2 separate regions of the Homo sapiens genome follow, and region 2 is linked to region 1. The links come from fine-mapping of genetic effects on gene expression. A gene starts in region 1. The other region holds a variant in brackets. All regions are shown on one strand. Distances are from middle to middle. Region 1 holds the start of STXBP3 (syntaxin binding protein 3). Region 2 overlaps FNDC7 (fibronectin type III domain containing 7).

Region 1 (14,510 bases):
GAAAGGGAAGGGAGGTTGTAGGAATTCCTGACTTTGTAGCCAAGACAGACAGAAGTGTGGGTAACCTAGGGACTTGGTACTGGCATTTGAAGTGAAGGCAGTATTGTGAGACTGAGCCCTTAAACCTGTGGAGTCTGACACTAACTAGTGTTCCTAGCTAACTAGTTCCTAACTAACTGGATATCCTACAATTCATTTCAATTCTGACACTAATACAGCTGGTGTCCAGAGTTGGAGAACTGGTTGGTGTGAGGGGGGAATAAAACACATATTTGGTGTCAGAAATGTTGTTAGTAAAAGCAATTCAGTTATTTATAGTCATTTTTAGAATTGTGATCTGGAAGGTTGTATTGTGATTGAGAAGATTTGGAAGTGTTATGAAATATCAATTGAGATAATTATATATTGTTTGCTAGGAGGATTATAGTGTTATATGAGAATTATGGTGAAAGTCCGAAATATTTAACCATAATTTAAGCCAAAAGCGCTGGCTTCTAGAACCCTACAGGCAAAAATAAAGGATTTTCTCCGGTAGAGCTCAGATACAGAAATATTATGCTGCTTTTCCTTTCAAAGCTAGCTTCATTCCTTATACCTCAAACAGCTGAAAATTGAAGACATTTGCTTGTTTTTATCAGATTTATTTGTGTCTTTCTCTTAAGAAATGAATGCTCATGGAATTTATGATGGAGCAGATTGGAGAAAAGCTCCCCAAGCAGAAGTCATCTCATTACAGTCTTTGAAACCTTAGAACTGCATTGTCCTAGATGGTGGAAACCAGCCATATCTGGCTATTGAGCACCTGAAATGTGGCTAGTCTGAACTGAGATATCCTGTAAGTACAGAATACATATGAGACTTCAAAAAACCTTAGCACAAAAAAAGGAATGTAAAAAACTTATTAGGTCAAATATAATATATTAATTTTACCTTTTTCTTTTTACCTTTTTATGTGACTACTAGAAAATTTAAAATTACATATGTGCTTTAAATTTCTAATGATAGAACTGTCTTGGAATCTGAAGATACTTGGATCTACCTGTGTCTGCCAGACGAAAAAATAAAAAGAATCTGAAGATACCTACAGAGTCAGTGTTATTGTCTAAAAGAACGAACTAGTTTTATGGAGATAGTAAGGGCACCCATAAAAAGTGACACAGTCACAGGTAGGTATGTTTAGAGAGGAGTCAAAGGAAATCATATCAACAAATACTATAGAACTAAGGAGGTATTTCCTCTAAATACTAATGAAAATCATTTGACCTTATATCCATTTCTCTAGCATCCTAAATATGGATATATCTCAAGACTCAATTCTCTTACTTTTGCTCTGCTTGTTCTCAGAGCAAAGGTAAGAGAATTTGCTCCTGTGGCTGGTCTTCTCAGAGACCATATTCATCATCAAAGTTTCATCTATCATATTAATCTTTCGATTTTCCACAATCTTACAGCCTTTCTCTCTTTGAACTTCATTCAACTACGCAATACAGATACAAGCAGCTACATGTCTCAAGTTGAGATTACAGCACCCTGAAAACTACTCTAGACTTATTTCTCTAAGTATTATTGTCATTTTCTTAGTCATTGTCTTTGTCTATTTCCTCCTTTCCCCACGCCCACCTATTAGGCATATTGATTGTTCTCCCTGGTAGCTATTATTTTTCATTGCTACTGTCACCCAGCATCGACTTGATTCTTCTCTCTCACTGAAGTACTGCAATAGAATCCTATCTGGATTTCCTGCTTTCCACCTCCAACACCTTTGCTATTTCAATCCATTTTTCACACAGCTGTCAGAGTCACCTTCCTGAAATACAACCCTTTGTTTATATTAATACACACCTCGAAATTCCCTCAAATGCTCACTCTTGCTTATAGAATAAAATCTAAACTCTACTATTTAACATCCTCCACTGACTGGCTTCTACCTAATCTCTAAATTAATCTTCCACTAGTCCAAAAGTTACCCAAATAATTTTTGTTTTTGTTTTTTGAGACTGAGTTATGCTCTGTCACCCAGGCTGAATTGAGTGGCATGATCACTGCTCACTGCAGCCTCAACTTCCCAGGCTCCAGCGATCCTCCCACTTCAGCCTCCCGAGTAGCTGGGACCACAGGTGTGCGTTACCACACCTGGCTAATTTTTGTATTTTTGATAGAGAGAGAGTTTCACCATGTTGCTCAGGCTGGTCTCGAACTCCTGAGCTCAAGCAATCCACCTGCTTTGGCCTCCCAAAGTGCTGTAATTACAGGCGTGAGCCACTGTGCCCGGGCTTACGCTAGCTATTTATTTATTTATTTAGACTCAGGGTCTTGCTCTGTCACCCAGGCTGGAGTGCGGTGGCACAATCAATGTCCACTGCAGCCTCAGCCTCCTGGGCTGAAGGGATCCTCCTGCCTCAGCCTCCCATGTAGGTGGGAACACAGGTGCATGTCACCAAACATGGTTAATTTTAAAATTTTTTTGTAGAGATGGGGTCTCACTTTGTTGCCCACTCCTAGGCTCAGGTGATCATCTTGCCCCGGCCTCCCAAAGTGTTGGGATTACAGGCGTGAACCACTGCACCTGGCCATAATTTTTTCTTTTCTTTTCTGCTATCAAAATTTTTTGCCACCTCAAGGTATTTAAAAAGCAATTTAAAATGTTAATTACGAGATTGTGAAGCAACATGAAAAATGTTGAGTCAATGTCAGTTGTTTAAAAAAAAGGAAGTCACAGAATGACAGATAATAAAAACAATGTCTTTATCTGTATGAGGATCAGAAGGAAAATGTGAAAAAGGGAAAAGCTTATGATTCAATATGTAAAGAACTGGCTTAAATACATACATGCGGATGTTAATCACATATATATCTTGGAAATTATACAACACAATTTGTTACCCATTTTCACATAAATGTATTTAAATACCATTGTTTTAAAACATCTCAAATCTTAAGTCAGCCATGTAAATCTTGAAAAAGCAAATGCCAACCTTAAAATTATCTAATCTTTTAAAAGATAATTTCATATTTTTCACCTATTTATACATTTGCTTAGTGCCTGCTATATGTTAAGCACTATCCCAGTTACTGATTTGGATTTTTAATTTTAGACAAGGAACTCTAACTCCCAGAATTCTGCTGACTAAATCATTTGTTTTTTGTTCAACAAGTTGGACTAAGAAATACTAATTAGATGCTACTCCCTTTCCACTACTAGGCCATAATTATCTTGAACTCAGAGATACCAAACAATGATGGTTATTCCTGTTGGGTGGTTTCATTCTTTCTCTAACCTGCCAGACCTAGGTTTGGAGCGATGTTTATGAAAGTTGTGGATGATACCGCAGAACATCAGTAACCAATAAGGAGTCCGGTCCTAACAGCAGGGAGGGGCCCCCGAGAGTAGGGAAAACGGAAGGAGCGGCTCTTGCCCAGGCTATGCAGGAAGATGTCACGGCTGGACACCGGTCATTCCAATGGTCTCTTCTCAAGAACTTTTCAGAAAGTAGGCTCCTCTCGGAATAGGGGAAGATGAGTCTGTTAAACAGTGAGGTTTTTTGAAAAGCACGGGTTGATACTAACACGAATAAGCAGAATAAACAGTCCTTGCAAACTCCAGTGTGGGGTGGAGATGGGGGCGGAATAAACAGCGCCCGAATTGTCTCGGATGGAGAGACATCCCCAACTGGTGGAGCGCGGACGGGAGCGGAGAAGAGTGGGGAGCGCGGCCGAGGGCACGCACGGGCTCCGCGGGAGGGAAAGCCGGGCCGGGCGGCTCACCCGGGGCGGAGCTTCGCGGCCAGAGCGCGGCCGAGGCGAGGGGGTGCCCGACGCCAACGAGAAGGCCGCGTCCCGTCGCACCCCGCCCATCCCTGGTGCTGGCAAGGAATAAGGCAGGGCAGGAAAGCAGGAAGAAGTCCTCACACAGGTCCCAAAGCAACAAGTGCTCGCGGCGGCTCCTCAACAGACCGCTGGGTTGGGGCTGCAAAACGAGGCCCGGCACGGCAGCCTCCCGGCCTTCCCTCTCTCAACCCCTACCCCACCGCACTCACTCTGCCACACGACGCTCTTTAGCCCCCTCTCTGCCACCGGCGGCGCCATCTTCCCGACACTGCGGAGCAGCAGCCACCACCTTCCACTCCCAACCTACTTTGGCCGCAGAAGCGGCGTTGGGGTGGCCCCGCCCCTTGCTGCAGGGGAATGCCCCACCCCCTCTAGCAGACCGCGCCCTCCGGTGACGTCACGCGCGTCAGCAAGGGAATTTCCGCCCACTCCCGGACGGAGGCTGCGCAGTACAGGTGGAACCTCCGTGGGAAGTCGGGAGCCCCCTAGCGGGAGGCTGCTGTCGCCCGAGGTTCGACGTCCTGTGGCCTAGGAACGCGAAGTGCCAAACCGATCGTGAGCCAAGGCCGTCTATGAAATTCCGAGTTCACACATACACGAAGACTGGAGGATCCTCCCCATTACAGAAGAACCCTTCACTTCGCAAGGCGATTCATAATAGACTTCACTCAGTAGCCAGCCCAACTACCCAATGGAAAATGTACTGTCCCCAAATGATTATTTCATTCATTTTTTCAAGGACACAGTAATTGCGTAGAACTGTGAGGTTCCCTCCAGTGTGCCAAGAACTGTGCTGGACTTTTAGGAAACTCAAAGAAATGAGAGATCAACTCTTTCCCCTGAATAATTTACAATCTAATTAAAGAGCACAATTCCTGGAATGCTGCAGGTAGTTAAAACTTAGTTTAAAAATTGAATGCCTTAATGATAAGATATACATAAATGAACCAACAAAAGAATAATCATTTATTAACAAATTTATGCAACAAATGTAGGGAGGGCCTGTTAATGCTTCAGAATCTACAATTATTGTTGAAAGTTGATTCACAGAGGAGGAGATCTGAGCTCAGAAAGTTTAGGTAGAGATCTGTTTACTGAGATGGTTCCTTTGGGACTTTAAATCAAAGTAATCAAACGTAAGTGAGATCAGTTTAGTTGCTAAGAGCCCTAACTGTGAGATAACCATGTGACATTGGCAGAAAGTAGGCTTTCCTAGAAGGATTTGCAAAGAACCAGTGGCTGTAAAGATTCAAATTGGTCACACAGGGAAGTAGAAGTGGTTAGATACTACTACTAATAATAATGTCTAATATTTACTGAGTGCTTACTTACCATATGCCAGGCACCATGCTAAGTAGATTACCTCACTGATCCTCAAAGCAACACTTACAACAAGGAAACTGAGGCTTAATGAAGTCAAGTAACTTGCCAAGGATGCACTTAGTGGTGGAGTGGGAACAAAGATCAGGCTTGGGCTACATGGAAAGCAATAGAGTAGTCTGTGGGGTAACCTGCAATTTTTAGGAGAGGAAAGGCAAATGAAGAATTAAGAACAGGCTGGGCATGGTGGCTCACACCTGTAATCCCAGCACTTTGGGAGGCCTAGGCAGGAGGACTGATAGAGGCCAGGAGTTTAAGACCAGCCTGGGCAACATAGCAAGACTGCTGTCTCCACCAAAAAAAAAAAAAAAATTAATAAAAAAGTTAGCTGGGCATGATGGCGCATGCTACCTGCAAGCTGAGGAGTCGTAGCTACTTGCGAGGCTGACGTAGGACGACTGCTTGAGCCTGGGAGTTCCAGGCTGCAGTGAGCTATGATCATGCAACTGTACTCCAGTTTGGGGAACAGAATGAGACCCTGTATCTAACAATAAAAAAGGCCATAAAATGGGTTCTGGCACAACCTATGGCTGAGTGGTTTTTCTGTTCAAGGCTTATATGAGAATAGAAGCTGGAGCCCTGACCTCCTTTAAACCTACTCTAAATTGATTCAGTTGCTCAATGTTTTAAACAAGTGCACATATGATTTCCCTCTCCCTTTTCATTTTAAGTTAGGTTCTGCTTAGTTTAGCAGGGTGAAGCCCCAATCCATAAGAAAAATATGTGCCAGGGAAAATTCACCCTTCTGAGGTGAAGCCCCTTGCTCTGAAGAGCCAAACCAAGAGGGAAGAGTGAGATGGGTGAGGTGCCTCCATCTCTTACCCTTCAGGAGAATGACCAGGTGCCAGGGAATAATACAGGTCCCTCTGGGTTGGAAGTTTGACTCTGGTCACATGGGGTGCAGTTCTGGCTCATGCTCCTGAAGGCCAGAGTCCTTGGTGGCACTGCGGAATAGTGGAGCAAGCATGGTCTTTAACTGCACGTAGGCATAGGTTTACATCCTACAAAATCTGGCTCTGCCTCTTACTAGCAGTGTGACCTCAAACACCTCAGTTTCATTGCACCTGTGTGCTGAATATGAATATATTATCTCAAACCTCGCAACAGCCCAGCAAGATGACCATTGCCATTTTACATATGAGAAAACTGAGTCTCAGGGAGGTTAAATAAATCATGAAAAATCTCAAAATGAGCTAGGATCTGGATCCATCTGGCTCCAAGGCCATTGCTCTTTCTAGTGTACCAAATTGCCTATCCTCCCAGGCTCCCCTAGATTTGCATAAGCTCCCTAAGCAGTTTCTCTACGTCTCCTCTAGTTTGCTTGCCTAAACAAATTGAAAAATGAACTTGGATTCCCTAAATGTGACACAGCAAAGTAGAAGGTAAAATCTGCTAACACTGGCCAGGGATGAAAAGCTGCTTTGTATAATTCAGAGCAGGTAAATGGCCAAAATAACCGAGGGTTGAATGTACACGCACTTGAGTTAGGGCAGATCACTCACTCACTATCCTATTCCCAGATCTCCTCTAATAAGCGATCACTTATTCATAATAATCTAGAGAAATATTTTCCATAAAGATATCATGGGAGGCCGGGCGCGGTGGCTCACGCCTGTAATCCCAGCACTTTGGGAGGCAGAGGCGGGTGGATCACAAGGTCAAGAGATCGAGACCATCCTGGCCAACATGGTGAAACCCCGTCTCTATTGAAAGTATAAAATTAGCTGGGCGTGGTGGCGGGTGCCTGTAGTCCCAGCTACTCGGGAGGCTGAGGCAGGAGAATCGCTTGAACCCAGGAGGTGGTGGTTGCAGTGAGCTGGGATCACGCCATTGCACTCCAGCCTGGGCGACAGAGCAAGACGCCATCTCAAAAAAACAAAAACAACAACAACAACAAAAAAAAACAAAAGATATCATGGGTACCTAACATAAAGATATGATAAATGCTTGAGGTAATGGATGCCCCAATTACCCTGATTTGATCATTATACATTGTATACCTGTATCAAAATGTGACATGTACCCCATAAATATATACAACTATTATGTACCCATAATAATTAAAATTAAAATTTTAACTGAAAGATAGCATGAATTAGCAGGTCTAACCAATGCTACTTACTTCTCTCCCTGAAACTTTGTGTTTGAACTGATTAGCCGTGTGAACATGGGTGGGCTACTTGACCTTTCTGGGCCCGTTTTTCCCTACCTGTATAAAGGAGATAATGTTATTACTTAGCTTGTAGGGTTGTTATGAGAATAAAACGAGCATATGGAGAGCACTTACAAGCTGGTAGTTTGTGCTATATACACGTTAAATAACCTAATTTTATCTTTACCCACTGTGGATCACATTTTCTTCTGTGACATTCTGACCAAAACAATTCAGCCTTAGGTGCCTAGCTAGGCAGATGGCTATTTCACTTTCTGTGCCTTGGTATTTGTAGGGTATTAGGTGTGCTCTCTGATGCTTCCAATTCCATTTTTAGAGATATATACCTTTGGCTTGTCTCTGTTCATGTACAGATGTTCTGGGGAAGATCTCTTATTAGTGACCCATTACGTATCTCTGATCAGTCTCATAGAGAAAGCATATCACTTCTCTCTTGCAGCGCACGTTGATAGGAAGTTGAGAGAACAGAAAGGGAAGTTTGTTCTTTCTTCCATGCTTAGTTCGAGCCTAATTCCATGGTCCAATTCCCCCTGGGCAGAGTTTTATGGTTGTTCCTAACTAGAGACATGCTTGGCTCCATAGCCATGTGTTTGGGGAGCAAGCACTATAACTGTGTGTGTGCATGTGCGTGTGTGTGTTATACAAGTCTACTCACATGTTTTAAATTAGGTTACTGATATTTGAAGGACAAACTTTTTTAGGTATGAGAGATTTATGTTATATTTCATTGCCTTCCCCCTCCAAAGATGAAAAAAGTAATTACAATATGAGTGGGGGATATGGCCAATAAGATGGATGGTCCTCCCCCAAAAGATGCACGCATGTCAGTCGGCCACAGTTTGAGGCTCTCCATTTGACATCTTCTCTCATGCAGAAAGCATAACTGCAACCCTTCTAGCAACAGGCTGGCAGCTCTGCTTTCCCAGATGCTCCCATAGATGTCACGCCACCTGATGCTTTGGCTCAGCGAACCCTGCAAGCAGCTCAGCTTTGCTCCTAACTTGCGATGAGGGCGTTTGTTATCTCAGGTTGCCCTGGCAGCTACTGCTTTCCAACCTATACTGAAGTCCTGCTGGAGGTTTGTCTTGGGATAAGTGCTGTCTGCATGTGGGTGGCTTGACTTTCTGGGAGTGAACATTTCCAGCCCCTGAGGGGGCTGCAGACAAGTGCTGTTGTAAAACACTCATGAAGTGGATGTGTTGAAGTCTGTGGTGTGTGTGGATGTGAAATCTCAGAATTTCTGCTAAGCAGAACTTTCTTGTTTCCAGGGTTCTCACAGTGTGCCAACTCAGGCTAGCAGCCGTCCAGGGGACTTTCTGGATTCATTTCTCTCCAGAGTCCTCACATAGCAGATCTCCAACTGCTGTGCAGGTGAGGACACACCTGACCTTGCCCTCAGGAAGCAGAGTCAGAGTTGTTCTTCTAAAGGCCAAAGGAGCTTTTCCTATCCTAGAGGCATTTTTATTCTACATTCTAGTAGATCTTTTCCATCTCTAATCACTAACAAATGAGACAACTCTGCAAGACAAATGGGAAAACATTTTAAACAAAGACAAAAAACTTTGCCATAAAATCACACAAAATCAATTTACGTTACTCACTTGGTCAAGTTTTTGTTTTTATCTGGGGCTCACTTTGTCATTCTTCATTTCTCTTCCCTCTATAAATCACTGAAAAGGGTAAGGAAGGGAAGCAGTAAAAGATGCATTCAATATGCAGACATTTTCTTAAAAAGCACCAGTGTCTGAGATTTTATGTGTATGTTGATTTGAAATGCTATTTTTGCAGCACTTCACGGCAAGTAAACATGAAACTATGACAACTGACAAAGTGTTCAAACTGATCAGCAGTTTCTAACCAGAGCAGTCTCTCTCCTGCTTCACCAAATGAACCCTCCCAGAGTCTCTTTAATCCCAGACCACTGGTTCAAAACAAAAGGACTTTCCTTTTCACCCCCAGGCCAACTTGCTGTGCTCCTCAGGGAACTCCAAAATTTTAATGACTCAGGGAGTTTTATATGGAAAACATAAACCTGTTTAGCTGCTAAGTATGTCACAGAGAGGAAGCTTCCTCAAAGTTGCCCAGGATGTACAGGTGACACTGAAACATGTTGGGTCCTAAAGATGAAGGAACACCCCCAGCCCCTGCTCATGGTGTGATGTCAGGCACAAACCCCTCCCATCTATCTACCTCTTGTTAGAGCCGCTATCACCTCAAATAGGTTTTTTTTTTCCTTTCCCTTCCAACTTGCATCAAATTTCCAGCATTGAAATAGCTTTCTTGAATTAAAGCCATGCTTTTTGTACTTTAGCATCCATCAGAAGCACTTTGAGGGCTTGTTGAAACAAAGAAGGCTGGGCCCTAGCCCCAGAATTTCTGATTCAATAGGTCTGTGGAAGAGTCTGAAAAATTGCATTTCTAAGAGGTTCCCAGCTGATGCTGATACTTTTGGCACCAGGACCACACTTAGAGAATCAATGAGGAAGTGTATTATGAGGACCAAGGTTAAAATGCAAATGTCTTCGTTAGAAGTAGCACATTAAAATGTTAATAATTGGTACATAATAGAATGTGATATGAGCTTAAACTGAATATGAATTAACAACTACCATTTATTAAGTAGTTGTTATGAGCCTATTATTGTGTCCAATAATTTACATTCTCATTTAATCCTGATTTTCTTTTATGAGGGATTATTATTTACTCTAATTTTCAGATGAGGAAACCTAGGCTCAGAGAGAATTTACACAACTTGACTAAGAGCAAGTGATGGTGGCAGGATTTGAATCCAGATCTCTCTTAAAAAGTCTGTTTATGGCCGGTGCGGTGGCTCACGCCTGTAATCCCAGCACTTCGGGAGGCCAAGGCAGGTGGATCGCATGAGTCTAGGAGTTCAAGACCAGCCTGGCCAACATAGTGAAACCCCATCTCTGCTAAAAATACAAAAATTAGCCAAGTGTGGTGGCGCACATCTGTAATCCCAGCTACTAAAGTGGCTGAGGCGCGAGAATCGCTTGAATCCCAGAGGTGGAGGTTGCAGTGAGCTGAGATTGCACCACTGCACTCCAGCCTGGATGACAGAGCAAAACTCCATCTCAAAAAAAAAAAAAAAAAAAAAAAAAAAGTTTGAAAAGCTTTAGGATACTCCAAGAGTCAAAGAAAACCCAAAGAAAACCTTAGACCAGCAAGATTCCCATGGCTCCCCTCAGCATATCCAGAGGCTCCAATGTCAGCCCAGGGACCTGATTGGACTTGCTCTGTGTTTGGGGAGGGGAAATGCTGAAATTGAAGACAGCAATTTAGAATTTCCCCCTAGATATAATGACTTCCATATGACCTTAGAAACCCTCAAATAATCTGGCTTACTCTTGTTTTTGGAGGGCCTTGCGGGATTTTTTTTTTTTTTTTTTTTTAGAGAGATGGCGTTGAGGGCAGGGGGCTCTCACTATGTTGCCAAGGTCGGCCTCAAACCCCTGGGCTCAAGTGATTCTCTACCTCAGCCTCCTGAATAGTTGGGACTACAGGTGTGTGACACTGTGTCTGGCTCCTACAGGATTTCTACAAATATCTACTTCAAGAGAGTAGCAGATTTCAGGCTAAAGACTGAGCCCTGGCTAAGGAAGGGAATGGTGAAGATAAGCTGAAGCCTAGAAGGACAGAAAAGAGGACATTAGTGATCTAAAGCAGTGCTCCTCAAACTTCATGTGTATCAAAATCACCTGGGAACCTGATGGAAATATAGAGGCACTTCACTAGGCCAGGACCTGGGCCTCTGCATTCATTATTAACTGTCCAGGAGATTCTAATACACAGCAGAGTTTAAGAGCAGTACCTAAGCAGTGCTACTCAAACTTGAATACATGCACGAATCACCTGGGGATTTAGTAGGTCAGGATGGGGCCCAAGACTGTACATTTCTAAAAAGCTCTCTGGTGATGCTGGTGTCTCACTCTGTCACCCAGGCTGGAGCGCAGTGGTGCTATCATAGCTCACTGCAGCCTTGAATTCCCAGCCTCAAGCAATCTTCTCACCTCACCCTCCCAAGTAGCTGGGACTACAGGGGAACTACAGGCACATGCCACCATGCCTGGCTACTTTATTTACACTTTGTAGAGACAAGGTCTCGTTTTGTTGGCCAGGCTGGTCTCCAACTCCAGGGCTCAAGCAATCCTGCTTTGGTCTCCCAAAGTGCTGAGATTACAGGCGTGAGCCACCATGCCTGCTCTCCTTGCCACCCCACCTTTTGTGTTTTTTGTTAAAACATAGACATTCTTTCTTTTCAAACATTTTTAAATTTTTTTTTTTACATTTTTACATTTTTATTTTTTTTGTTTTTATTTGAAACCCTTCCTTGAACAAAATCATAGGCAAGGCCAATATATCATACACCACTCCTCTCCCCTGGGGACCTAGGACACTTCTACCACACCTCTATGTCTCAGGGAGATACTGATTAAAGAATGCAGACCTAGGTCCATGTACCTTTCACTGAAGACCAGGGTGTATGGTCTCTACTACTTTGGGAGACTTTTTTATAATTAGAAGTGTCCTCACAGTTTGTTTTCAGTAAGCCAAGTCTGTTCCTTTTTGTAGTCATAGAAAACAAAAACTCTTGAAAAATTAATAAGGATTGTGCTTATTTCAGACCTGCAGGTGGGACAGGAATTGAAAAGTGTGTAACCTGCTGTGCTCAGAGAAGCAATAGACTGGGAGAGGAAGGGAGCCCAGGCAGAGAACAGGGAGTGGAGACTCTAGACCCAGTTCCTGCCAGTGGAAGGGGGTGTGGGTGGGGAGCCAGCCCCGACTGGAAGGCTGTCCAGTGGGGTTTACGGGCAAGAAGGCTTCATTTACACTCACACCATTCAAAATCAGCCATGTCTGAATGGGGAGGGGTGGGGTGGGGGTGGGCGGGAGAGAAGTTCTGTAGTTTGGGGTTGATAATATTCCCAGGGGATTTTTTCCTAAGGCCCCAGACCAAGCTGTCCCCTAAAAGGCTGTGGCAAGGACTCCTCATGAGGCAGCATACACTGCTTACTGGGTCAACACTCATGGCTCCATTTGCTCATCTCCACTGCCCTGCCAAGAGTCATCTCTGTGGGGGCAACCAAAATAGCCTAGACAAGATCATCCCTGAGCAAAACCAAGGAGGCAGTGAGGGTTCTCTTTATTCCAACTGCCCTTTCAGCACCCTCTCTCTCCACGGGGTATACCCACTCATGCAAACCAGGAGCAAACATCGTAGCTCTCTGCAGGCCGTTAACAGATTCTCTCTAACTCCTGGCTACTCCATGTGTGGTCAGACCAGCAGCCTCGGCATCGCCAGCATCACCTGGACCTTATGGAAATACGGAGTCTCAGACACTTCCTACACCGACCAAATCAGAATCTGGCTTTAACGAGGCCCCAGGTGATGTGTGTGCACAATAAAGTTTGAGAAGCACGGCTCTAAAGTAGCAGTTCTTAGCCTTGGCTATACTTCAGAATCACCTGAAGAGCTTTTACAACTCCTGATGCCCAGCTCTCACCCCAGACCCATTAAATCAAACTTTCTGGGGACAGAACCAGACATCAGTTAATTTTAAGCTCTCCAGGTGACTCCAGTGTACAGCTGAGCTGGGAATCACTTTCTGAAGTGTGAGGGATGAAGCCGCTGCCCCTCCCAAAACTATTTACATTTTCCTGTAGGATCCTAGAATACTAAAAAGACTTCAGAATTCAAAGAAATTCATCTCAACTGGTGGAATCTCAGAGGAGGCACTATAATGGGGAGAAAAAGTCATGGGATAAGAGAGCAGGAGCCCCTTGTATCAAAGAAAGAAAGCATTTGCTTTCTAATTGAAAAGTCAGCTGACTTCATTAACCCCAAAATGGAGCAACAAAAATCCTGTTCTATTTTATCCATGAGAAAAATGACTTACCCATTCCAAGTGTACTTCCAGAGCAAGTTACTGTAATAAAAACACAAGCATTTAAAATAAAATCTATTCATTTATGTATTTAAGATAGTGAAGATTTAACTTAAGAAAGAATAAAAGGAAAGTAAACCAAAAAACGAACAAGAACGAACTTGGGTGATAAGAGAAGGAGATACTACTAGCAGTATGACCTGGGCAAGTCACTTTACTGTGCCTCAATTTATCTGAAAAGCAGTAAGAATAAGCATACCAAGCTCAGCTGGGCGCAGTGACTCACACCTGTAATCCCAGCACTTTGGGAGGCCCAGGTGGGCAGATACCTGAGGTCAGGAGTTCAAGACCGGCCTGGCCAACATGGCGAAACCCCCATCTCTACCAAAAAATACAAAAATTAGCCGGGCATGGTAGTTGTGCACACCTGTAATCCCAGCTACTCAGGAGGCTGAGGAGGAGAATCACTTGAACCTGGGGAGCGGAGTTTGCAGTGAGCTGAGATTGCGCCATTGCACTCCAGCCTGGGTGACAGAGCAAGGCTCCATCTCAAAAAAAAAAAAAAAAAAAAAAGAATGCCAAGCTGATAGGTTTGTTGTAAGGACTGAGTTAATATATGTAAACCCCTTAGAACAGTGCCTGGCACATGGCATTCAATAAACATTAGTCGTTATTGTCATTTACAATATTGTCCTGATTATCAGAATAAGACATCACTGATACTGCAAACAAACAAAACCAAAAAACATCTCCCAAATGTATGGCTTTTACCAGGGACACTGAGCAAAGGAGGATTTCCTAACTTGAGTCTAGATACCTAATGTTACTAAGCTGAAATGGCTACAGGCTTGAGATGGCATCCCATCAAAGAACTTGAGTTCTAACTCACAAGGACTTCTGGTGGCTAACCAGCCCTCAGAGGAATGACTCTCTAAGGGTGAAATTGTGGGCATGGAGCAGGAGAAAGAACAAAAGACTTCCATCACTCACTTAGCTGTATATTCATTGATTCATTCTTTTTTAAATTTCAAATATATCAGGCAACAGTTACGTGCTACGTACTGGGAGTCAAATAGATAATCATTTATTAGGAGAAAAGCACACATTCAATTCACAGTAATATGTTGCAGTACAGATAAGGGTGCTGTGGGGTCATAAAGGAGGGAGAGAGAGAGGGCTAACTCTGCTTATGATAATTGGAGAAGGCTTCACAGACAAGGAAA
Region 2 (16,768 bases), 22 kb after region 1:
ATCTCTTGACCTCATGATCTGCCTGCCTCAGCCTCCCAAAGTGCTGGGATTACAGGCATGAGCCACCATGCCCGGCCCATCTTCAACAATTCTAACTGCAAATTTCAAAGTAACGGTTGCTTTCACTTCTCCCAACAGAACATTTCATAGCATTAGCAATTAAGTATAATTTGCCTTTCTTGAAAATTTCATAGTACATCACTGATATAAAAGCTTGATTTCTTAGCTGTCTAAAATACCACAGCCATCTTGACTTTTCAGGGACCCATTACCCGAATATAGGATACCTAACATCTTCACGTATGCAGTATTTTGTATGGTCTCTATCTTACTGCTGGCTTCTTTTTTTAGGTATTTCAACTTTTATAGTCCAAAGTGCCATCTATCACTGTATATAAGAAAAACTAATGTCCACAGGCTTGAAGTGATTTGCCACGTTTCATTCATACACAATGCTACGCTGTAATAATAGTTTTCTTTTATGGAGCTCTTGCTGTGCATCAGGCATTATGCTAAGTGCTTTGCAGCATTAGTCAACTTAATACTCATAGCCACCCTATGAGGCCATTATCTCCCTTTTACCTATCAGGAAATTGAAAGTCAGAAAGCATTTTTTTTTTTTTTTGTGACGGAATCTCACTCTATTGCCCAGGCTGAAGTGCAGTGGCATGATCTCTGCTCACTGCAAGCTCCGCTTGCTGGGTTCACGCCATTCTCCTGCCTCAGCCTGCTGAGTAGCCAGGACTATAGGTGCCCACCACCCCGCCTAGCTAATTTTTTGTGTTTTCAGTAGAGACAGGGTTTCACCGTGTTAGCCAGGATGGTCTCGACCTCCTGACCTCGTGATCTGCCCGCCTCGGCCTCCCAAAGTGCTGGGATTACAGGCGTGAGCCACCATGCTGGCCAGAAAGCATTTTTTAAAGAGAAAAATTTGAAAGGGCTGAGCCAAAGAAATAAGTAACAACCCAGCTCATTTGGCTACTCATTTGTTAGCTGTTTCGATAGATTATATCATAGGGGAATATGAATTCAAATAAATGTTTTGCAGAATGAGTAAGTATTCCTTCTCTGATGCCAGTGAATGGATATACTAGTCTTGAGGATATTTTTACAGAACTTGTAAAATATTGAAAATTTTATTGTCTATGACCGGGACTCTTTGAAACGTCTCTGAGTTTAATGTATTTCTGTTGCACTGAGGGTAGATTAAATAAGGAAGTTCATGTCTTGAAACACTCCATAAGGACCCCACTGAAGTCAACATTCAGGCTGGTGGTTGCTACATACCTGTTTCCAGGGGCACACTGTAGCTGGGCAGGCTCCGTCCTGCCTGTGTTTCGGCCACAGCAGTGACAGAGAACACTGAGCCACAGGGCAAGCCCCGCATGGTGCAGGACTCTCCTGTGCTGCTGCACTGATACAGTCCTTTCTCCCCTTGGGCAGTCACCGTGTAAGTAGCATCATCATTAGTGGATCGCCAGTGCACATTAATCATGGAGAATGCATCCCTTGAAACATTTTTTATTTCAGGACTGCAAGGAGCTAAGACATTTTAGAGTATTAATTGAACCAGCATGAGTCAAAAATATCACATGTGCCATTTGGTCTAAAACTGATTTTGCCCCCAGTGAGATCATCACAGTTTTCAACCACGTCATGCATGCGGGCCAAATTCATAGTGCCTATGCGTGGGGAACTGTTGACATTAACACAGGGCATTGGGTTCATAGAGTACTGGACTAGCTGGAAAATGTTTAAAAGCATTGTGAACTCCAAAAGCAAAAGTAAGTAAGAAACATATTTATACACCTTCATGGTGTGAGTACAGGCAGGCCCCTCAAAGATAGGAGGAACCGAATGGCTGAAGTCATCATGGGCAAAACCTTCTACTCTCCCCGTGGTCTCCCCTTTTGTTTTCATTTTTTCCACTTTCCTCTTCTGCCTTCTCCTCTGCCTCTCCTTCGTACAACGGGGGCTCTCTTGGTCTCCACAAAGATTGATTAATGGGATTTAACCTTTTTATTGGTCTCACTGAATGCCCATCCTGAGGCTCAGAGCTGGGGTGAATCATTCAGACACCAGTGAGTGGAATGATAGCTGTGCCTTACCTGTGGTTATGAACTGGGGAGTACATGACATATTGCTGCCTCGGACTTCATTGAATGAATACACTGTGATGTTGTACTTGGTGTCACACTCTAGAGCCGAAAGGGTGCACGCAGGAGTAGTGTCATTGCACTCAACCATGTTGTACCCATCTACAGCCTTGGTTTCATACAGTTCGGCACCACGGACAGGAGACCAGACAATCTCAACTCTGTCACTGGACACCAACACGGGGTTAATGTCACTAGGACAACAGGGAGCTGAAAGCAGGAGCAGAGGGAAAATGGCGGTCCCATCAAGAGCAATGCAGCTGGGGGTACACTGTGTCCTGACCTCCCATGCCCAGAGCCTCTGCCACTGCCCTCCCTGATGACTACAGTGACTCCCTATGGGTCTGTCAAGGTCCAATCTTGGCCTAATTGCCACTGCATAGAGGGTAAATCCTCAGCATGACATTGAAGGTCATTGCAAGCTATAAGGTTCTGCTGTACTCCCCCCACTCCCTGCCACACCAGACTCCTCAATTCCCCCACGCCACGTGCGCCCTTGTTCTCTATGCAGAGAAGATTGCTGACCCCTCCACTGGAAAGCCATTCCCCTCTTCTGCCTGGTAAAATCATATGCAGTCTAACTTCTCAGATCCTGTCAGCCTTTCCAGACAGTAAACCAAATAAAACTGGGGGGTAGGGCTCACAGTTATATAAGTAGTTTTTTTGTTGTTGTTGTTGTTTTGTTTTTTCAAAGAGACAGGGTCTTGCTCTGCCACCCAGGCTGGAGTGCAGTGGTGTGATCTCAGCTCACAGCAACCTCTGCTTCCTGGGTTCAAGTGATTTTCAGGTCTTAGCCTCTGGAGTAGCTGGAATTACAGGCACATGCCACCACGTCCAGCTAATTTTTGCATTTTTAGCAGAGACAGAGTTTCTCCATGTTGCCCAGGCTGGTCTCAACTCCTGACCTCAAGTGATCTGCCTGCCTCGGCTTCCCAAAGTGTTGGGATTACAGGCGTGAACCACTGTGCCCGGCCGTATATAGGTAGGTCTTAAGAGACCCTAAAGAACCCCACTGGCAAATGTCTGACTCAGCTTGGAGTTTCCCTGGGATGCTCTTGCCCCACCTACATTCCCATTCATCCTTCAAGATCCAGTTCAAGGCCACTCTGGAGGGCCCTCTCGTGTCGGGACCTTATCGATAGCCTCTTTTTCCACATTCCAAAGGCACCAATGATTTAGATCCCTCATCCTGTCAAAATTTACTGTAATTCAGCTAGACTTTTACATAATTATGTTTGAGTATTCTTATTTGTAATGTAGTTATTTAATTTCAAATCACTCCACTCATTCTTCAAAACTTGAGCATCTCCCATATGCTGATCACACTATTATAAGCACTGAGGATGAAGAGATAAATAAGACATAATTCCTGCCTTGTACAAGATGCAAGCCTAGTAGAGGAGAATAATAGCAACAGCAACGGTGATGCTAATAATAAAAATATGTGCATCATGCTTTGTCACACACAAGACCTTTTTACATTCATGTTTTCATGATTTGTCCCATTTTGCAGTGGAGGATACTAAGGAACTAGCAAGGTGGGCATCATTATCCTCACTGAAGGAATGAATTAGTGGTCAAGTTAGGGTGTAAACCCAGGTGTCCTACTCCAAAGCCCTCCACACCATGTAGCGTCTTGGCCATTGTATGTCTGTCTTGGTCTCAGGGAAAGAGTGACCTCCTGAAACGGAGGCACTGCCTTCTCTCTGGCAGCAGCACATGCTAGAACACTCACTGAGTACATCTTTGTGGCGAGTTCAATCTTTCAGAGCAAGGTTGAACAACTACATTCTTTCTCCTCTTTTCACTCCCAAACCTTGCAGTCTAGTTATGCTTAGGTCCACAAAGCCAAAATTCCCTAGTCTGGAAAGAATGTGAGATAAGAGATTACTTTCTGTTCTTGGCTCTAGAATGACTCCCAGGTGGTAAGTCAATAAGTGGAATAGGTGATCCATTCTGCTGCTGAGGTTAGAGATCTCAGAACTCCCTTAACAAACATCAAATGGGACTTACCTGTGGTATAATTGAATATGTCACCCAAAGGACTTTGCCCTGCCTTGTTATAGACAAAAACACTAATAAAATAAGTGAAGCCACACTCAGATAAGAAGTTGCACTGAGTGAGAGATGTGTTGCAGTGTACTTCCAAGCCATCATCACTCTTCACAAAGACCACATAGTAGTCACCCAGATCTACACTGGACCAAGCCACAGACAGGTGGCCAGGGGGATCTTCTTGGATCGTCACTCTTCCGGGTGCACAAGCAACTAGGAAATGATCAATAATAAACATGAGACTACTGCAGGAGATTTTCTTCGCATCTTTGCAATTATCCAAGATTTCAATACAACCCAAATTAGCAACTCTGAGCTTTGTGACAGATTGAATTTGGTGCACAAAATGCAAAACTGTGCACTGGAAGCATTAGAAGATTTTCTTTATAGGACCAAAGGCTATGTTACAGGCCCCAAACCACTACAACAAATTTTAATGACCTCTCACATTCTCTTGTTATATGAAATATTGTTTGAAATAATGAGCCATCAGAGATTCATAGTCATCTTAAGACATACAAATTTTCATCGTTAGATTATTTGTTGAAATATTTGACTTCATCCAGAGATGAAGCTAGTCTGGCTTGAGTGGAATAATGAATATCCCAGAAGTTACCTGTTTTAGAGATTAAAATACAGACATCATTCATTGTGTTTTATATTAATATATTCTCTAATTCTTCCAGCAACTATCATCATTTTACAATTGAGGAAACTGAGGCTTATAGAGGTTGGTAAGTTGTCTAAGATCACATAAGTAGGAAGGAATGGAGCTGGGTCTTTCTGGGGGTTTATCTGTAAAGCCTCCATAGCATGGAAAATTCTTTTATTAAAAAAACTATTTTTTTAAATTTATTTTTTATTTTATTTATTATTTTTTTTGAGACAGAGTCTCACTCGGTTGCCCAGGCTGGAGCACAGTGATGTGATCTCGGCTCACTGCAACCTCCACCTCCTGGGCTGAAGTGATTCCCTTGCCTCAACCTCCCAAGCATCTGGGACTACAGGTGTGCACCACCATGCCCAACTAATTTTTGTACTTTTAGTAGAGACAAAGTTTCACCATGTTGGCCAGGCTGGTCTTGAACTCCTGACTTCAAGTGATCCTCCCCTCTCAGCCTCCCAAAGTGCTGGGATTACAGGCAGGAGCCAATGCGCCCAGCCTAAATTTATTTTTTAATTAATTAATTAATTAATTTTTTTTTTTTGGAGACAAGGTCTCGCTCTGTCACCCAGGCTGGAGTGCAGTGGTGCGATCTCAGCTCACTGCAACCTCTGCCTCCCAGGCTAAGGTGATCCTCCCACCTCAGCCTCGTGAGTAGCTGGAACTACAGGTGCATGCCACCATGAGCAGCTAATTTTTGTATTTTTTGTAGAGACGGGGTCTAGCCATGTTGCCCAGGCTAGTCTTGAACTCCTGGACTCAAGCAATCCACCCATCTCGGCCTCCTGAAGTGTTGAGATTACAGGCATGAGCCCCCGTGTGCAACCTGGAAAGTTTTTCTAACTGCAGCCTCTCATGCACTGAATGACAGAATACATTCTTATGCCCATTACATCCTCCAGGGAGCATCTTAAGCATAGAGTTAAGATACTAGATGCTACGAATAAGGAACAAATCAAATAGTATGTACAACTCAGTACAAACCCAGGAGACATTCTCAGATGTCCTAAAATTTATCTCACACAATAAGTGCTAGACTATGTCAAAAGCAGGCATGTATTGATTTGATTAATATTGACTGTTTCTCTGTGTTAAGGCAATACCTCATTTATCCACATAATGCCTCATTTATTGATGGAACAAAATCTTCTGAAAGAATGAATTCAAGTAAAGTTTGTTCATTCAAGTGCTAAGCTTTAAAAATTTTAGTTTTCTCTAGTGGAAATCTTCCCGAAATATATTACACACTTCTGGGCCCCAGGAGACACACCGTAGTTTGTAAACATAGTTCTTTTATTAATAAGTCAAGGTCATCCCTATGATCATGACTGTGTTATACACAAACTGCCTTAGAACATCCTGGACCTGTTAAGTGTGAAGGATTATTTCAATGGCACTTAACCCTGACTGCATAGTAGAATCAACTGGGGAGCTTTTACAAACTATTCATATCCAAATTCTATTCCCAGCAACTCCAGTTGGTCTTAAGTGGGACCTGGGTATTGGGATTTTGTAAAAGTTCCCCAGATGCTCTTAATGTGTGTCCAAGATTTAAAAACTCTGCATGGTTCTCCCCTGCATTAAATGCCTAACTGCGTAACTCAGAACTGCTATGCTTTTGAAAGTATTTTTTCTCTCTTCTCCCACTCTTAGCTATCTTGTCCTCATAATCGCTTCTAATGTACCATTCACATTAAATCACAGTTGTCAAAAGAGAAGCCAAATCATCAAGTTTGTTATCATTGACCTTAATTTAACATAACTATAAGAGAGTGCGGGCCTGAAAGAATAGCTTTATTTTTTTTTTCCTGTGGAATGGAGTGCATCAACTTGATGACAGCTCCTTTTCTTTCTGTTCAGAAGCTTTTTAAACTTAGAATGACATAACTGACTGTTAGATAAAGTAGATATTATTGTAATTGTCAACATTTTCTTTGGCTTTAAGCATTGGAATTAGGCAAACTTGAGCAGCTTGAATCTCAGCTCTACCACTTATTATCGGTGTGCCCTTAGGAAAATTATTTAACTTCTCTGAGCTTCAATTTTCTTATGTAAAAAAAGAGAAAATAGAACCCACCTCACTGAGTTGTCATGAGATTTAAATGAAATAACATACTTATAGTGCCAGAGACATAGTAGGTCTTCATTAAGTGTTAGTTTCATTAAGTGTTAGTTTCCATCCCCAAGACACATAGATATTTCTAAATAGAGGAGTCAACTTCCACATGTGTATGTGGTTATCTCTCTGATAAGAATGAAAATGGAAAAATATCTAAACGCATGTTCAGAACTAGAAATATCCTATCTTTTTCTTAAAAAATGGCGGCTCCCACCAAGCCTAGGACATGAGACATGACGCAAAGAAGACGCAGTTATCTGTATGCACAGTTAGAGCTGTGTACAACTCAAATCACATCTTAGAATTTTCACAGCTTTACAAAGGAAAAAGAAAAAACTAATTAATGAAAGATCTGGAATAGAAACCAGGCCTCCTAATTTTCCAAAAAGTGCTTTTTGCAATACACAATATCTCGCTTCACTATCAATATTATTCAAACTCATGAGAATGTCCAACTCTATGCTTTCATTTAGACCAGGCTTTCATTTTCATTTTTTCCAGAGTATTCAGAAACATTGTCAGTGAACGTCTCCCTTACAGCAGTCAGGGCTGCAAGCCCGACAGCAGTCTCACTCTTGTTTACATACCAGTTTTCAGGGTCATTGCTGAAGATGATTTGCTAGATCCAGCATCATTACTTGCTAAAACTGAAATCAAGTATTCAGTTCCACACTGGAGGGAAGAGATGGTGCAGGAACTGAAAGTTGTACTGCAGGTCAGCTCTGAAGAGTCGCTCAAAGCCATCACAGTATAATTGAAAGCTCCTTCTGCCCGTGCCCAGGAAAAAGATGCCTTCAGAGCTCCACTATCGAAAGAGACTTGAATGTTGGCAGGGGCCCGAGGACCTACATTTTAGAGAAACAATTAAGATTTTGTAGTAGCCTTACAAACTACGTAAGAGTTGGCATAACAATGTTGCAGAGCCTGGAGGATAAGGTACCCAATAGTTGGATAATTACAAGTGTTCAAAGCATAAAATTGGGATTTAGGATGATGCCTGGGAACTGGTAATTCATCTGCTACTATGCAAACTCATAATATACTGTGTGACCTTGACCCCATATTATTTACCCTTTTTGTTATTTATTTTTTTCTTATATCTAAATAGATCTAATAAGATCCATGCCTAACACCTATAGGTGCCAAAAGACATATTTTGAATGAATTAATGCATTATTTAATAAGTAGTTAAAATAGTTAAATGAAATTATAAATGGGGAGAACTAAAAGGGCCACGTGGGTACGTTATTATTAAGTGATAGGTCAAATATTTTCTGTTATTGATCAATGAAACTAAACATATCCCTTCGTTACTTTTGACATCTGCTACAACTTTTACTGTAATAGCTTTTCGGTCATAATTGTTTCTAGAGGAGCAGATTTTCTTTCCATTCATTATCAAAAGGAAGGAAGGAAGGTGTCAAGTGTGATGCATACATATTAAGGCAGTCTTTTAGTGTCTCCAAAACACTTAACCCTACATTCTTGTAAATATACCTTCCTTTCTTAAGAGTTACCGCATTAAAAAAGCGTAAGAAGGTGTCCTGGCCTGGGGAGGGGAGAAATTGGCCTCCGTTCTTTGGAATCTGTACTGTAATAACGCCCACGCAGCAGGCCTTAGGAAACTGCTTAAACAGTCTGTGAGCAGAGACCAGCATCCTCTGGACATGTCTGGGACAAACAGGGAAGGCCTCTTTTTTTTCTTTTTTTTGAGACGGAGCCTCGCTCTGTCGCCCAGGCTGGAGTGCAGTGTCGCAATCTTGGCTTACTGCAAACTCCGCCTCCGGGGTTCATGCCATTCTCCTGCCTCAGCCTCCTGAGTA[G/A]CTGGGACTACAGGCGCCCGGCACCATGCTCTGCTAATTTTTTGTATTTTTAGTAGAGACGGGGTTTCACCATGTTAGCCAGGATGTTCTTGATCTCCTGACCTCGTGATCCACCCGCCTCAGCCTCCCAAAGTGCTGGGATTACAGGCGTGAGCTACCGTGCCCGGCCGGGAAGGCCTCTTTGAGGACATGAGGACCTAACTCATTCTCTGTAAGGCAGGCATCTGCCATGATTTTCCCGTGGGCCATCTTGACAGGCCCCTTCCCACTGCATGGTCAGCTAGTCTGCAGAGGCAGTTCTGCTTTAGGGAAGTGCTGGGCCCAGGGCTGGTAGGGGTAGCCTGCAGTGTTTTAGGGCAACTTGCTTTTCCCACAGGAAGCATGGGAGAACTAGGAAAAATAGGTAGAGTAGTGAGAGCCTGTTATGAGTTGACTTGAGTTCCCTCCAAGTTCATATGTTGAAGTTCTTGCCCCTAGTACTCTCAGAATGTAGCCTTATTTGGAAATAGGGTCATAGCAGATGTAATCAGGTAAGATGAGATCATTAGGGTGGGCCCTCATCCAATATGGCTGATTTCCTTATTAAAAGAATAAATTTGGACACAGATACACATATATAGGGAAAATTCCATGTGAATGTGAAGATAACCATCTACAAGCCAAGGAGAGAGGCCTGGAACAGATTCTTCCTCACATCCCTCAGAAGGAACCAACCTAGCCAACACCTTGATTTCAGACTTCGTAGCCTCCAGAACCATGAAACCAAACATTTCTATTGTTCAAGTCACCCAGTTTGTGGTTCCAGCAGCCCTAGGAAACTAATCCAGAGGTGAAATCTAAACTCTGTAAAGCTTTGTAAAACATGGGGAAACCTATGTAGGGGAAGTCTTTAAGAAACAAGTTATTCTAGGGGATGCTGTCTCAGTGCCCCAGCCTGATGAAGATGCTGCCTCCTGTGCCTCGCTGTGTCGGCAGCCTTCTGCCAAAGCACTGGTCAGGTGAAACTGGAAACGCTGACTCACCATTGGTCTCTCCTTTGACATAGTCCATTCTTTGAATGGAGGGATCATGCTTTATTTGCTTTTGTATTTCCATCAGCTAACTTATGCCCAGCACACAGTGGGCCCTCAACAAATGTGGAAAGAAAAAAGCAGTGTGAAAGGGAAAGGAAAGGGAAGGACAGGAGGGGAAGATAAGGGAAGGAGGGAAGAAAGCAAGCCAGCCAGCCTAGGAAAAGGCCCAGGGAGACTGACTTGTCACAGACATCCTGACTCACCAAGACTGTCATGAATCACCGCAGGGCTATGATTATACTACCTCCCTAGGGAAATAGTATAAAAGGCAAACCCCTCTCTTCTCCCTACATTCTGCCTTGGCCCATACACTATGGGGCTTCCATTCCCCTCCAAACTTAGGGAAAGTTGGAGAGAACATTTCTGGTTTCTTTCCATCCTTTCCTGTGTCCTCCCCAAGTGGAGAAACAGCTAATCTGGTTGGTGAGAGTCTCCTATCTATGTAGGTTACATTGCCAGTGGATGGCTTACTCTGCCTCAAGGAAAGAAAAAACACCCCCTCTCGTTCTCTCTCTCTCTCTCTCTCTCTCTCTCTCTCATTCGCTTGGCTCACTCCAGCAGCTCAATTTGGACCTCCAGTTGTAATGCTGCAGAGTCCTTTGCTCGGGGGACCTCTAGGTGGGACGGTGAGAAAATGCACACCAAGCTTCAGCTTCTCCCCACAGCTGGAGGAGCAATAGTGGGAAGCCCCATGCTGACTTCAGACCCAAGCTGAGGCCTTTGGGAAACAGATCTGAAACATGAATTCCACTGCAGCATCAAGCACTGTGCCTGCAGAAACCTTGCTTTGCTTGCTGCTGTATCTCTAGAACAATGCCAGCTCAAAGTTGGCACACACTCACTCAGTATCTGCTGAACAAATGAATTCCTATTTGGCCCAATTCTTATACTAATTGGCCTGAACCCAGAAAGGGACAAGGGGTGATGGGTAAACTTAACAAGAATCATCTTCTTTTGTGTGAGGTCGAATGTGAATGCTGAAATTGAGTTGGATATTAGAGGGCGGAGCCATGCTGTGTGCATTCTGAGTAGCATTTCTTTATCCATGCAGGAAGCGTTTAAACTACCGAGGAGGAATAGACAAGGCACTATAAATAACTTTATAATAAATTTAAATAGCTGTTGCCAGCTGCTCTGTACTTGTCATGTAACACTGCCCTTGATGGCTGCAACACACAGCCCCCCTCATTAATCAAAAGTAGAATTGTTCGAGGCTGAGCTGAGAAGTTCTTACTTGTTCTCTGATTGCAGGTGGAGTCATCCCCAGGGATTCTGTTGGCATTCCATGCATAGGCCTTTATGGTGTAGAGAGTTCCGGCTTCTAAACTGGTGAATGTCAAGGAGGTGTTTGTAGTATTCTCTTTCCATATACTCCCCAAGCCATTGGCTCGCATAATGGACACGGAGAATGCAATTGCCATATATACAGCTTCCCACTGCACAAGAATGGAGTCTGAACTTGGAGAGCTTACTTCTAGAATTGGTGCAGCCAACACTAAAAAAATAAAAACACATGCATTTGTGTTACCAAAGTCCAATAGAGGATAATTCAAATTTAGAAGCAAGTAAATTGATATCCATAATATACAATAATTATTTGCTTTAGAAGAGCATTCACAACAAAGTTTCATTAAATAATTGCTATTTAAGTGTATACTAATCATAAATGACTTGGCAGAGGAATGGGAAACAGAGAAACGCTAAATATCAGGCACTACTTTTAACTGAAGTTAGTCAGAAATTAGATAAAACATTCCTATAATCATAATATAAATCAATGGGAAAATTAGGGGTTACACCATTTTAATGTGCACATAACTTTTCAGAAATATGCCTAGGTACAACTTTATCAAATCAATTTCAGTAATGCTGATGACAAACTCCAAATGCTTTTATTTGTTTTGTTAACATATATGCCATACGGTCAGAGTGCAGCAAAATCCCTTCTCTGTGTTCTTCATTTGGCGTGTTAAAACCAGAAATCCCTATTTCAGAGATTTAAAAGCTGGGATGCTTTTAAAGATGCCCAGAAATGGGCTTTATTTTCCAAAGCAAAGCAGCTGGCATTTAAATGCCACCTCCTCCGCAGATAGCTGAATTCTCAAACAGCATCATTTGGTAGCTTTCACTTCTGGGCCTTGAATTGTAGGCACTCATGTGACACCAAATCACATTCTGCATTTGCAGCACCAGGATAACTGATCCAAGTCACAAGCAAACACTCAACGGAGGATGAGCATCCATCCAGCCACCTGTCTTTGCCTGCTTTGGAGGTGACGCCTGGCTTCTCCCAGCAGCGCTGATGGATCTGATGGTGATTTCATACCAGGTTGCAGCCTTTAGTCCCGTCACAGTGCCTGGGGAATTGGCCACCGTGGTTTCAATGACTGTGTCCCCGTCTTCAGCCGTGAGGAGGTAACTGGTGGCACCCGGCACTGTAGCCCATTCTACAGTGATACTGTTGCTGAGTTTTGAATATGCCTGATCAATAGTGGGTATTTCAGGAGCTGAAAGAGGTTTTAGAGTTGTACATTAGCCAAGATACCTACGAGGATGACTTCTTTCATCATTTTACTCTTCAAGCTAAATCATTCTCATGCCTTCCTTCAGACAGAAGTTTTGCCCTTATTATTCAGATCAAGGAAAAACAGAGAAAAAGAAAGACAAAGCTACTCTCCAGAAGAGATCCAGAAAGCTCAAACCTCTCATTCAGGGATGGGATTTTAAAGTTTTCCCCAATTGCCTGTGGGGTAATTTGCACTTTTTGTACTTTTAAAAGAGCTAAATAAGAATGAGAAGTAATTACGGGAAAGAACTCTGGGAAGAGAGAGAGAATAATTGAGAGGCTTTCTTCCAGAGTATTCTACTCCAATTGGGCATTCTGTGACTTTTGCAGGCTGCTTTGCCATTGATCTCCCCTCCTGGTCCCACAGCCATCCCACTGCCTCCAGCTGGACCCATCTCCATTCCTCCTGCCTCCGCTCAGTGGCTGCGGTCACTCTCTCATGCACTTTGCACGTTTTCCAGATAACCTTTAATCCAATGGAGCAAGGAGGGAGGATTGAGTTCTTTGTTATAATTACTCCATAGCACTTTCTTTCATATTATCAGAGTGGAATAATTCTCAGATTCTTCCATACAAAATAAAAGTAAACTTTATTCTCCCTTTCTCTATCACAATATCTGCCTCAGCATAAGAATGTGATGGGCCGGGCTATGGTTTGCCAGGAGATATGAATGCTTATGTCATGGGCTTACACAAAGCATTCCTACACTCAGGAGTATGGAGTAGGAGATACAGCACAGTAATCAGATTGACTACTTTACAAAATTCCATAGATGCAAAAATGTCTTGGATATAGGAGATCTAAGTGGAAGAAAAGGTCAAACAAAAATAGCTGAGTTTTATTTGAAACTGGCACTTGGACTTTCAGGTTTAATGTACTCCACTTGCTGGGTAAAATCACTATATGTCAAATTCAAAACTAAAGGGAAGACAAACAAGCAGAACTATAGGGCAAAGAGGGAGAAGGAGTAAAGACAGACAGGTGATTCTCCAGCATCAGCTCCCCTTCTCCCAGAGCCAAGTCCCTATGTGCACGATACAGACAACTTTCTCTTTCTGTACCAATAGCCCAGAGAGTTAGCTTTGGCAGCATCTCAGAAATAACCATGCTGCAAAAATGAACAAAGTCTCCTCTGTGCCCTGGCCAGACATTCCTTGAACATCACCCAGGATAGTCTCTTTTGCCATTGAAAGAAAATTATGACACTTATATATGCTGGAGGAAAATCTCAGGCCTGCTCATCATAGCCACTTGCCAGTGGAAGCCAATTCTATAGGAAAGGGCTTCGCTCCCTCTCTCCCCTACAGAATAGAAAGCCCCAGCAGGGGCTCCCTCTTCCAACACACACACACACACACACACACACACACACACACACACACACACACACACACACCTCTCTTCTGCTCCCCAAGCTAATGATCCTGTGCTATATGCCTTCTTTCCTCTAATTTTCTGGTGTCTCTCAACTCCTTCTGTTTCCTCTGTCCCCAGAGTTAATCTTATCTCCTATGTTACCAGTTCTGTTCATTGGAATGAACTAACTTCCTGGGAAAATGACAGCCAAACTGGCCACAGACACAGGAGGCCGGATCATGCATTCACGGAGCAGTTTGAAAGGCATCTAAAAGGCTAGCATGACACAGACCCTCTCCCCACAGGCCTGTCATGGGGCCCGCGGGCTCCACAAAACTGGCCTCATGGAATTGATCTAGGAGAGGCACATTTGCTTGGAAGTCATAATGCAGGAAGCCAGTATCACAGAATGAAACTCGGGGTTGTGTGGTGGGAAAATAGCAAAGGGTTTGGATTCAGGAGCTCTGGGTTTGAGCCCTGGCCCTGCTATTTACTTTTGTGTGTGAAGGCATGCAAGTCATTTTACCTCTTCTAGACTTGTTACCTTCCTTGACAAATACGGATTATTAATACCTACATATTAGGATTTACTTTGAAATTTAAAATACCTGCATTTTAGGATTGTTGTAAAGAATAAGTGAAATAATGTATGTTAGGGCACTTGGAAAGTGTGTGTGTGTGTGTGTGTGCGCGCGCGCACGCACGCGCATGTTTGTGTATGAGCCAAGACAAGTAAATTTTGATGGGTTCGGAAAAGCCAGACCATATGGCGCTGCCATGGAGGGGTCCTGTGAAAGTGGGATTCTGAGGAGTATGCGGCAAACACAGGCTGGAGAGAGAGATTGTCTGTTTTACACCTGGTTTTAGGGCAGGCTGTGACCAGCATCAACAATGAAATGAGATCAACACCTATGTAGTATGTTGCCCTTTAGTAGATGAGAAGCTGGAGTGTAAAGTCCATAAAATAGCAGCAGTTCCTTACTCTTTCTTACTTCTATGTTTAGCCCACTGACTGGACTGATGAAAGAGAAAACTTTATTCCCTAGATGTGCAACCAACCACTCTGGTCAGTCAAAAATGAACCCTTTGATTCTCAGCATCTGTGCATTCCACCAGCTCAAAGAGATCTAAATTAGCCCACGAGGCCCCAGTGACCAGACACAGATACACAGCAATACCAGAGCCCAAAGAGAATCAAAACACACACAACCAAAATGAAACCTTCTATACAGTGTAGCTAAAACACATTCTATCTGTTGAAAAGCCGGGACTCAATTAGCAATTGAGTCAATTAGCAGCAGCATCAGTAGCTTAGCCTGACCCACCATTTCTCTAGATTAGTGCAGATGCTATAAACACCAAAAAGGGGCCTGTTCTGAGGGCTTGGTCTGTCCTGGGTGTGCTAGGACCTTGTAAGAGACGGCAGAGTTAGATTCTGTCCACCCAAAGTCGACTTATTTAAGAAGCCGGCCGGGCGCGGTGGCTCACGCTTGTAATCCCAGCACTTTGGGAGGCCGAGGCGGGCGGATCATGAGGTCAGGTGATCGAGACCACGGTGAAACCCTGTCTCTACTAAAAATACAAAAAATTAGCCGGGGGTAGTGGCGGGTGCCTGTAGTCCCAGCTGCTCGGAGAGGCTGAGGCAGGAGAATGGCCTGAACCTGGGAGGCAGAGCTTGCAGTGAACCGAGATTGCACCACTGCACTCCAGCCTGGGCGACAGAGACTCTGTCTCAAAAAAAAAAAAAAAAAAAAATGCCACTTTGTATATGGCCAAGCAGACCCTCCTATAGTTTCCTGGCTAATCCTAAAGATCTCTCAAGAATAAGACAAGTAAATAAGAATAAAGCAAGAGGTGGGGTGTTGCTATGTTGCCCAGGCTGGTCTTGAAATCCTGGGCTCAAGCAATCCTCCCATCTTGGCTTCCCAAAGTGCTGAGATTATAGGCGTGAGCCTTGGTACCTGGCCAGGAAATAGAAATTTTTAAAAACTTACTGTATATGCATGAATTTTATGAAATTTCATGGCTCAGACATGTATCTGTATCAAATTTTTTAACTGTCTTAATTTCACTTCCTTTTCTGTGGTGTAGACAAAATAATAAATAAAAATTTTTCTAATTTATGTTGAATCACTATGAGAATTTATCGGTGATATGGTTGATATTATGTGGTTCCTACAGATAAGTTAACCCTCCTAAAAATAAATTTCCATTCCAGGTACTTAGATTTCTAGCACAAATGAGCTAGGAGGGGCCTCTAGATAAATTATTTTTGCCTTCGGTTATCTACTCAAGAAAGATGGAGATCAACTATTTTTAAAAGAGGGTCCCCTTTCAGCCCTGAGTGACTATTGTCTATATTTCAAATATGCAATATTAGAAGTATAAAGTTCTTTTTAAAGTAGGGAATATTGACAATTTAATCAAATATAACATTTCTCATTTTCCCTCTAATTCCCCGGAAGATAAACAAGAACATTTGTATAAATTAGACTCTGTACAATATCTTAACTGGAATGATGATCATTGTAATATTTCACACATGGCTAACCGTATATGAGAAAATGCATGCCTACATGGCTCTGTACATTATAGTCCTCAGCAAGAACACTTTATGAAGATTTGTCTTTCGAGTTCAATCCATTTATTTGTCTTACCAGTTATTGTCTCCCCAGGACCCAATAGAGTGCTTAGCACCCAGTGTGAGTGCTCAGAAAATATTGAATTTTTTTTTCTCATATAGCCTTTAGATTTCAGGGTAGCCCGTGAATTAACAATGGAAATTAAAATCAAATACGAGAAGGAAAAACTTGCAGGTCAGAAAATTGTACCTGATTTTGCTGAAGCAACCTGAAAAGGAAAGTTTGGAAAATTAGAACCACACAGAAAAACACAACTTGAACAAACGTAAAACATGAATAAAAGCGGTAATAAATTAATCACAACATTTTTACA

Evidence for each region.
Region 2: its variant is fine-mapped to the expression of STXBP3 in fibroblasts (GTEx, PIP above 0.99).

The regions. Positions count from the first base shown.
Region 1 is chr1:108,736,314-108,750,823 of GRCh38, reverse strand. STXBP3 (syntaxin binding protein 3) reads right to left here and starts at 4,150. Exons shown (of 19, transcript NM_007269.4): 1 at 4,038-4,150. The coding sequence starts at 4,086. It overlaps FNDC7 (fibronectin type III domain containing 7), which reads right to left. Exons shown (of 13, transcript NM_001144937.3): 11 at 13,300-13,329; 12 at 8,983-9,051; 13 at 8,075-8,899. The coding sequence ends at 9,020. RefSeq lists a silencer at 3,649-3,768 and enhancers at 3,969-4,378, 3,901-4,471.
Region 2 is chr1:108,713,406-108,730,173 of GRCh38, reverse strand. It overlaps FNDC7 (fibronectin type III domain containing 7), which reads right to left. Exons shown (of 13, transcript NM_001144937.3): 2 at 16,645-16,663; 3 at 12,143-12,397; 4 at 11,125-11,385; 5 at 7,582-7,839; 6 at 4,170-4,424; 7 at 2,109-2,366; 8 at 1,288-1,542. Among named protein-coding and RNA genes, the nearest start is that of FNDC7, 8.9 kb to the right of the region's middle. RefSeq lists enhancers at 7,592-7,651, 7,672-7,781. The variant G/A (reference allele first, on the strand shown) is at 8,818.